2 separate regions of the Homo sapiens genome follow, and region 1 is linked to region 2. The links come from fine-mapping of genetic effects on gene expression. Tissue or cell type: whole blood. Region 2 holds a variant in brackets; the other region holds the start of a gene. All regions are shown on one strand. Distances are from middle to middle. Region 1 holds the start of CD83 (CD83 molecule). Region 2 holds the start of LOC105374939 (a long non-coding RNA gene).

Evidence for each region. PIP is the estimated chance that this variant, and not a neighbour inherited with it, causes the effect.
Region 1: CD83 starts here. The variant in region 2 is the best candidate, but not a certain one, in a credible set for the expression of CD83 in whole blood (INTERVAL, PIP 0.89).

The regions. Positions count from the first base shown.
Region 1 is chr6:14,116,099-14,120,322 of GRCh38, reverse strand. It overlaps CD83 (CD83 molecule), which reads right to left and starts at 2,551. Exons shown (of 5, transcript NM_004233.4): 1 at 2,475-2,551; 2 at 2,258-2,373. The coding sequence starts at 2,511. RefSeq lists cis regulatory regions at 1,254-1,754, 1,222-2,048, 1,619-2,119, 2,285-2,940, 2,124-2,940 and 1 more and silencers at 2,684-2,803, 2,931-3,225.
Region 2 is chr6:14,094,350-14,098,869 of GRCh38, reverse strand. It overlaps LOC105374939 (a long non-coding RNA gene), which reads right to left and starts at 236. Exons shown (of 3, transcript XR_926500.3): 1 at 103-236. RefSeq lists enhancers at 3,383-3,512, 4,406-4,520 and a cis regulatory region at 3,034-3,534. The variant G/A (reference allele first, on the strand shown) is at 2,708.

The DNA.
Region 1 (4,224 bases), 22 kb before region 2:
ATAATCAATGAAAAAGTATAATTATTGGGCTGGAAAATAATAAGTATCTACAGAACATGCTGAGAGCTGTTTTAAAAAAAATGCTTAAAGGAACAATATATGTCACTTTCGAGGCACCTGATTCGTTTATTGGTATAGCATAACTCTCCTACCCACGAATCTCAATCACCATTTACTTCTCAAAAAATAACTACGGTATGACTTTTCATTGGCACTATTCCATGGATCAACAGGAAAAAAAGAACGCCTAGAGACTGCTGTCCCTTTTTTTCTTGACAGAGCTTTCAAAGACCTTGGGGGTAAATCTCGCAAGAATTCTGTCCAATAAACAAGCTCATGCGTTACCGAGTTACGTCACCAGCTGACATCCAAGGAGAAGTCCAAGGTTAATTGCTATGGTTTAGTGGACCATTCCAAATGACCCTGTGCAAGAAGCTTTCACTCCAGAACTGTTTGAACTTCACAGCCTGAAATTTCATCTACTTGTTTCATGAGTACTTTTTAATTACTCCCCTGGGGGTATTAATAATGTTTTCTTTATTAAATAGTTACTCTCTGGAAGGGATAGTGGTTTCATGTTTTTCCCCGTTCTTTGAGATAACTAAGTCCCTGCCTGGTTAGCCCAGGGGCACTTTGATTTTCTTTATCTTAAGTTATTAAGGGAGAAAACAGAGATCAAGATAGACCTCTAACAACTCAGGATTTGGAATCAGACTGCTTCGTTCAAATCCCAACTCCACCATTTAGCTAGCTGTGCAAAAGTGGACAAGTTATTTCCCTCCCTAAGGCTCAGTTTCCTCACCTGTAAAGTAGGAATAGTAACAGTACTAATCCCTAAGTCCATTCTTCCGATGGATGGAAATGGATAATGTATGTAAATATTTACCTTGGAGCTTGGCACGTGGTGAGCATTCAAAAATTGTTTTTACAATATTTTTAAAAATACTATTGTTTTGACTATGAGAACAATTTCGGAATTGTTGTGTTCTCTGATCCCACAGTAAGTAAGGTACCAATGAAGTAGGAATATTTAACACCTTACTTTTATACACAATACAATGCTCTGAGGCAGCAGCACCATCCCCGTCATGCATAACTCATGAAGTGCTGGGCTGAATTCACAGAGCACCTTTGCAATTTATAGGGCAAAAATTAGGTGCCGTGAAGAATACACAGAAGTATGGATACAGCCACTGCCCCCCAGGGAACTGACCATCCAGTTAGGAGACACACACACAAAGAGATCACCGCAATGATGCCTTGTACTGTTAAGTGGCCAAAGACGTACAGTTTCTTATAGTATCTTTTATGGTGGGCAGAAGAACGCCCTGCATTTTGGGGAAAGCTACAAGTGCAGAGATTTGCCCCCGTGGTAAGACAGCAAATCAGTGAGAGCTACAGAGTAAGGTTGTAATATCATATTCATTTGGGTTAAAATGGAGGTGCTGTGGTAGCAGTGGCCTGACTTAAAGAAGGACCAGTGATATCAAACAGTAGCTGCTTGGCTTTGGAATGACACCATCATTGCCATCTTAGAATCTGAGAATGTTTCAGTCAAGAGGAAACCTTGAAAAAGCCTCCTTGTCACTCAGTCCACTTACAGTAGGAGCAGCAAGGCCTGTTCTTACACATGCGGGCTCCGGCTCATGCATCCACCTGATGCTCTCAAGGCTGCCAGAGGAAGGAGGAGGAGGGCTAGGGGAGGAAGCCAAGGGTATCCCACAAAGGAGATGACCACTGATAACTACCATGGATGAAATGGCCTAAGTCACTTCTGTGTCTTAGCCTTTCCTTTCAAATTGCCCCCTCCCCCTCCCATGTATCATGGGCATCACAGTCACAAAACACAAGAAATCAGAAGTCTGGAGACATTCCCCCTGTCCAATGCCCAAATCTAGGTCCCTGTTGCTTTCTTCCTGACCTGCTGGCCCACAACCACAGGTGGCCTCCAGAATTAATCCAAATGAGAGTCTCTGCCCTTCCAAAACATCTTAAGTGGATCATTCATCTCAGGCCACCTTCAGTGACAGGAAGGGGATTGAGGTCTGCGGAGAGCAAAACCTAATTCGGCCCTGTACCTGGATGCGGATGGGGTGGGGGAGGCGCGACGGGAGGCTGGGTACTCCAAGTTCAGCTGCGGGAGACGCCCCTCGCCCCCACCTGGCAGCCACAGAGGGTCGCCAGCCTAGGGGAGATGGTTCCTGCTGTCTTCAAATGAGCCCACCAAACCCCAGCCCGTGGGTATCGCAGCACCTACCTTGACCCAGGAGACCGTGTAGGGAACCTGCGGATCCCAGGGGGCGGTGCAGGGCAAGTCCACATCTTCGGAGCAAGCCACCTTCACCTCCGGCGTCGCGGGAGCCAGGCTGTAGGCTACAAGAAAGAGAGAGCGCGTCGTGAGCAAGCGACCGACGGGAGGGGGTGTCGTGGAGGGGCGGGGGGCGACAGGCGAGACAGGCGCTCGCGAGCCCTACCGCAGCTCAGGAGCAGAAGCTGGAGGCCGCGCGACATGGCTGGAGCGCTGCGCCGCTGCCACGAGCTGCAGAGCTGTGGCGCGCGGGCGCCGGCTGCCCTTTTATGCCCGCGCGTTCGGGAACTTCCCTGCGCGCCAGCCCGGGGGATTCCCCGGCGGGCAGCGGAAGCGGGTGGCGCGCCCTCCTAGTCCCGCTTAGGCCGGGGCGCCCCCGTCCCCGCCCCCTTCGCCCCCGTCCCCGCCCCCGTCCCCGCCCCCGTCGCACCCGCCGCCCTCGCCGCGTGCGCGTCCCCGCCCCCGCGCGCCCGGGCCGGGCGCCCCGAGTTCGCGTCGCTGCTGCGGCTGGCAGCGGCGACAGCAATCCCCGCGTGACGCCCAGCGCTGGGGGCTTTGCAGACCGCGCTCGCGCGCGTGACGCTGCCGTTGACCCGCAAAAGGAAGCCGGGAACCGGGCCATCCGAGCGGGATCTGCCCATTTTACGGAGGCCAAACCAGATTCCGAGAGGGTGGGCAACTTCCTCAGAAGCCCAGCCTGTCCTTGGGAACGCACTGGTGAACCCAAGTCCTCACTCTTCTCCAGAATCTGTGATAATCAAAGGCGCGTTAGATTTCCATGGAAACATACAAGTCTGTAGTACTTGGCTCCCTGCCTTCCCCGGGAGGTTATCAGTCAGTACCGTCCTGTTTAAATTATATCACCAAAGGAGAGTGTCTCCTATTAAAATAATAATTACACGCATACACAACATTTTTGGAAAAGAAAATTCTAGAAGACAATGAAATCACCTGTAATTCATCCAGGAAGTAACTTCAGTTAACATTTTTTTATATTATAAAATGTTTATAACATAACATAACGTAAAATATTTATAACATTTGTCAGTGCACAGATTGGTATTTTTAATGGTTTATTCTTCCTGCTATCTTGTAACCTACTTTCTTTTAGCTTAATAATTTGCAAGCGGTTCCACATCATTAAAAACTTCCAACAGCATCATTTTGGTCCATTGTTCAGTTGCACCATAAATTAGAATCGATTAGTGTTAGACATACAGGTTGTTTCTTTTTGTATTACTAATATTAGAAACAATACTGTGATTGCTATGGGAAACTTCAGTGTAGATAAATCTTTGCTCTAAAATTGCTTATTTTCTTAGAATAAATACCTCAAGGAAATTGTGCTAGGTGAAGGGGAGTTTCCAATTTTGTCAAATATTGCCAAAAAATTACCTGCAAGGAGGTGTCTTCAATCTATATTCCCATCTGCAAAGAGAGTGCCTGTTTGCCAACACAAACTGTTATCCAACCTTTCTATCTTTGTCCATCCAAGAGGTTAAAAAGAGTGGCATCACTATACCACCAGTTCTAATCTGCTCTTGGAAGTAGTTATATCAATTGACAGTCCCGCCAGCTTGTGTGAGTACCTTTTCTCCAGCAGCCTCACCAAATTAATTTTTTAATTGTGAAAATGTTAAGCATACAAAATAAGTATAGAAAATATGGAATTGAACACATCTGTATACAATTTATTCTTGAGAAATAAAACAGTACTAACATTTTCGAGACCCTCTTTTTTTTTTTTTTTTTTTTTTTTTGAGACGGAGTCTCGATCTGTCTCCCAGGCTGGAGTGCAGTGGCCGTGATCTGAGCTTACTGCAAGCTCCGCCTCCCGGGTTCACGCCATTCTCCTGCCTCAGCCTCCCGAGTAGCTGGGACTACAGGAGCCCGCCACCACGCCCGACTAATTTTTT
Region 2 (4,520 bases):
AAAAAAAAAAAACTTATAGTAAAATGTAAATTAAATGCACATTTTTAACTCATTGAATTGGCAAAAAAAAAAAAAAAAGTTCAAAAGCTTAACAATACGCACTGTTGGTGAGGCTAAGGAAAAAGGCTCTCTGGTACATTGCAGGTGGGACTGTGATACGGCACAACCCCTGTGGAGATGAACTCAGCAACATCTAACAAAACCACGTATGCATGTACCCTTCCACTCAGCAATTCCACTTCTGTAAATTTGCCCCAAATATATCCCTTCCACTACGTAAAAATACAAATGCCCAAGGTTATTCATTGCAGCAATTTTTTATAATTGCAAAATATTGGAAGCTACCTAAATGCCTAAGTATAGAGTACTTGAATAAAATATGGTACACACATGCAATGAGGTACTAAGCAGATATAAAAAGTATGCGGAAGATCCCTGTGAAATGATATGGAATGATTTCCAGGAGACGCTGTTAAGTGAAAAGGCAAGGTACAAAAGAGTATATAGAGTGGGATATCTTTTGTGAAGAAAGAAGGGAAATAATGAGACTTGAGTATTCTTTTTTTTGGGGGGGAGACGGAGTCTCGCTCTGTCGCCCAGGCTGGAGTGCAGTGGCGCGATCTCGGCTCAATGCAAGTTCCGCCTCCCGGGTTCACACCATTCTCCTGCCTCAGCCTCCCGAGTAGCTGGAACTACAGGCGCCCACCACCATGCCCAGCTAATTTTTTGTTTTTGTATTTTTAGTAGAGACAGGGTTTCACCGTGTTAGCTAGGATGGTCTCGATCTCCTGACCTCGTGATCCACCCATATTGTCTCTACAAAGACAAGCTTCTTGAGCTTCTCTCTACAAAAAGAAACATGGGAAGAAAAATCCAAAAAATCTTGTAGTTGTTTTCCTCTAAGGAGTATGAGGGAATAGGATGGAAAAAGCACGCTTTTCTTTTTAATTCCCTCCCTCCCTCCCTCCCTCCCTCCCTCCCTTCCTTCCTTCCTTCCTTCCTTCCTTCCTTCCTTCCTTCCTTCCTCTCTCTCTCTCTCTCTCTCTCTCTTTCTTTCTTTCTTTCGACAGAGTTTCACTTTTATTGCCCAGACTGGAGTGCAGTGGTAGATCTTGGCTCACTGCAACCTCTGCCTCCCAGGTTCAAGCAATTCTCCTGCCTCAGCCTCCCGAGTAGCCGGGATTACAGGCACTGGCCACCACACCCAGCTAATTTTTGTACTTTTAGTAGAGATGAGGTTTCACCATGTTGGCCAGGCTAGTCTCGAACTCCTGACCTCAGGTGATCTGCCTGCCTCGGCCTCCCAAAGTGCTGGGATTACAGGCATGAGCCACTGGGCCCAGCCTGAGCATGCTTTTCTATATTGTTTTGACTTTTGAAAGCATGTTCACATTCTACCTGGCAAACAATAAAATTAAATCAGTAATGAAGCTTAACACCCAGTACCTATTTGCCATTCTTTGGGCAACCATGCCCTGCTTTTTTGGGGGGAAAGCACGCATCCCACATCCTTTTCCCATGTGTGTTTCATGGGCCCCACCCATATGTGGGGTGGGCATGTGACAGTCCTGTCCATTCGGAGTACCACATTTCTCTGGCCATGGGGCCTGGCCTAGGGGTGGGCGCTTAACACAACTGAGTCAGTGATTTTTCATAGCCTTTAGCTGCCACTGTTAGAGGCCATCTTCCTCTTTTTCCTTGCACTAGCATCTGGGAGGTAGTAGACCTGGAGTAACCAGCAGCCCTCTTGGCATCATGTGGAGCCTTGAAATGAAGCCGAAATGGAAGGAAGAGAGCAATGCTAAGAGGGGAACAGACCAGTTCCTGAAATATTGTTCAAGCCCCTGGATCAAGCCCCTGCCCTTTTTAATGAATTGCATGAACTAATTATTTCAAGTTCTTGCCTATGCCTGCTTGAGTTAGGTTTTCTGTAACATGCATTCAAACCATCTCAATGGATACATTAGTTCAAATCTCTCTATTATTGGTGTGGAATCTGAGTCTCAGTAGAGTGAAAGCACAAGCCCAAAAATCATGCTGGAAGATAATAGCAAGGGCGGCGCTAAGACTCAGAACCTCTGGCTCCAAGTTCAGATTACACAGTCAGTGTGGCAGACGGCCTTCACCTAGGGGACAACTTATGTTCCAGGTGGAAGAGAAAGAGACAGAAAGCAAGCTAAGCCCCCTCGTATGGCCTAATATGTCCCAGACCTCCAGACTCAGGGTTTATGAGAGTTGAACGAAGTTTCTGTTATTACAGGTATCAGCCATCAAGATGTGCACAGAGAAAACTCAGCAACTGGGAAATCAGCTGCATGGTAGCAAGATACACAGACTTGGAGTCAGAAGATGTGGGCCCAGACCCTGATATCCACCCACTCTTGTGGGTGGGCGCCTTCTGAATGTGAAGGGAGGCTAATAATAGTGCTCCTGGGAGTCCAAAGACTGATGCTTTGGAGAGGCCTCTGTAAGCCAGCATCCTCCTCCAGCAGTGCTCAGGCCTGGAAACAATCCACAGGCTGTTTAAATGGCCATCACAGAGGTTTTTTTCAAGGCAGAATTCTGCCTTCTCTTGACAACAAACAAGCAAGACTTGAGAACACCTGGGGAGAACTGTGACCTACATGCCTTTTTGTCCAGGCAGGAGAGGCTGACGCGCCCTCAGTTCTCCTTCACCCACCCCTACCCAGTGCAGCTAGAAACCTGG[G/A]GGTGTGTTCCAATGGCCATTTAGGGTCCGACACTGCCATGGGCCTCACACAAGAGAACTCTTGCTCTGCAGCCAGCTGTCTTCCAAAGCAGGGAAGCAAAGGATTCACCCAGAGGGCCATGCGAACTTCCCGCCCTGGCTTCCAAGCTGGTCACCCGCCTCACTCAGCACATGACCGCCTGGTCCAGGGGAGGCCTCTGAATTCACAGGCATAACTGTAAATGCAAATTCCCATGTAAAGCTCATGGATGAAAGGAAGGAAATGAGAATTAGGACTCAAGTTCTGTTGGGTGAAATGTAAAACCTGGGTATCTACTCTGATAAGATTAAAGTGAGTAATTGGCAGGTGGACCAGTGGTGAGCTTCAGGGATCAAGAACACAGGGAAGCAAGTTTAGAGGCCAAAAAGGCAGCCACTGGGTGCTAAGCAGGGGAGAACTAGTGATGTTGACTGCCTATGGCCGGGTGAGGGCCGAGGACGAGCCTCCCAATGCTGGGCACAGGTACAGCTGCTGACGTTGACCACTAGGTACAGGAAACCAGGCAGACCTTTACAAAGGCTGGGCAACATCCTGGTGAGCTCCCATGTGGAACCCACAAGAAGCCACGTTTAGTCTCACAACATTTATGGGGAAATTCCCCTGAATTGACGTTTAAGCTTTAATAGAGGAAATCAACATTCTCAGTAAATCTGGTAAAAGGTCTATGGAAACTTTGTTAAATTTCAGCCAGAGACACCCCCAATGGCTGGTCCAGCCAGTGCTGTCCATTATGCAGCTCATTCCATACAAAGTCCTTGTTCTCAAACTTGGCTAAGGCCTCCTATGAGAGAACACCTTCTACACCAGAAGGTATAATTAGATGCCCTATGGTAGCTTTTAGCCCATGTTTTGAAAATCAGCGAGGTGCCTGAGCTGAGGTGGCTGGCGGATGTGCATTGAGGAGATAGGCTGACATGGGGTGTGTTCATTAAGTTATTCAACAAGCATTCATTTACTGGGTATATAGAGTTTCCAAGCCATCATGCTTAACACCGTGGAGCCCAGAGCAATGGATAAAATGGAGCAAGTCCATTTTGCTCCCCATGGAGCATGTCAGAGGCCAGTTGGGGCCAAGTGTGTGTCTGGGAGCAGGAGGGCAATGGCAATCGGGATGCCTGTGAGATTTCCTGCTGTACTTCCTTGGTGGGGCCAGACCAGAGAATGTTGCCTATTGAAAAACATTTCTTTGTAAGGGCTTTGTAAGCAGACATCTCCAGCTGGGAGCAACTGAGGAATTTTTTAATCAGAGCCTTGATCTGCTCTTGCGGCACTGCCTGAGGCTAGCAGTGTCCCTATAACACCAAACTGAATTCTAAAAAGAAAAAAAATCAACTGATTGCTTCCAAATACTGGGATGCTTATGGGGGCATGTGTGTGTGTGTGTGCGTGCGTGTGTGTGTGTGTGCCACCATGCCCGGCAAACTTTTTTTGTATTTTCAGTAGAGACAGGGTTTTGTCACGTGGACCAGGCTGGTCTCAAACTCCTGACCTCAGGTGATCCGCCTGCCTCGGCCTCCCAAAGTGCTGGGATTACAGGCGTGAGCCACCGGACTCAGCCAGGGCTCTGTTGTTATCCCCACATCATGCCCTTCAAGTATGCCATGCTGCCGGATGTCAGGAACCAGGCTCCAAGGGGTGGTGTCTTGGCATGACTTAGACAACCAGAGACAACAACCCCAAAACAGACCTCTGGCCTTTCTCTCCTCCTCCATCTGCCTCCTGCCAGAGAAACCAAAAGAAGAACTTACTTATAAAGGCAGTCATGGGTCTTTT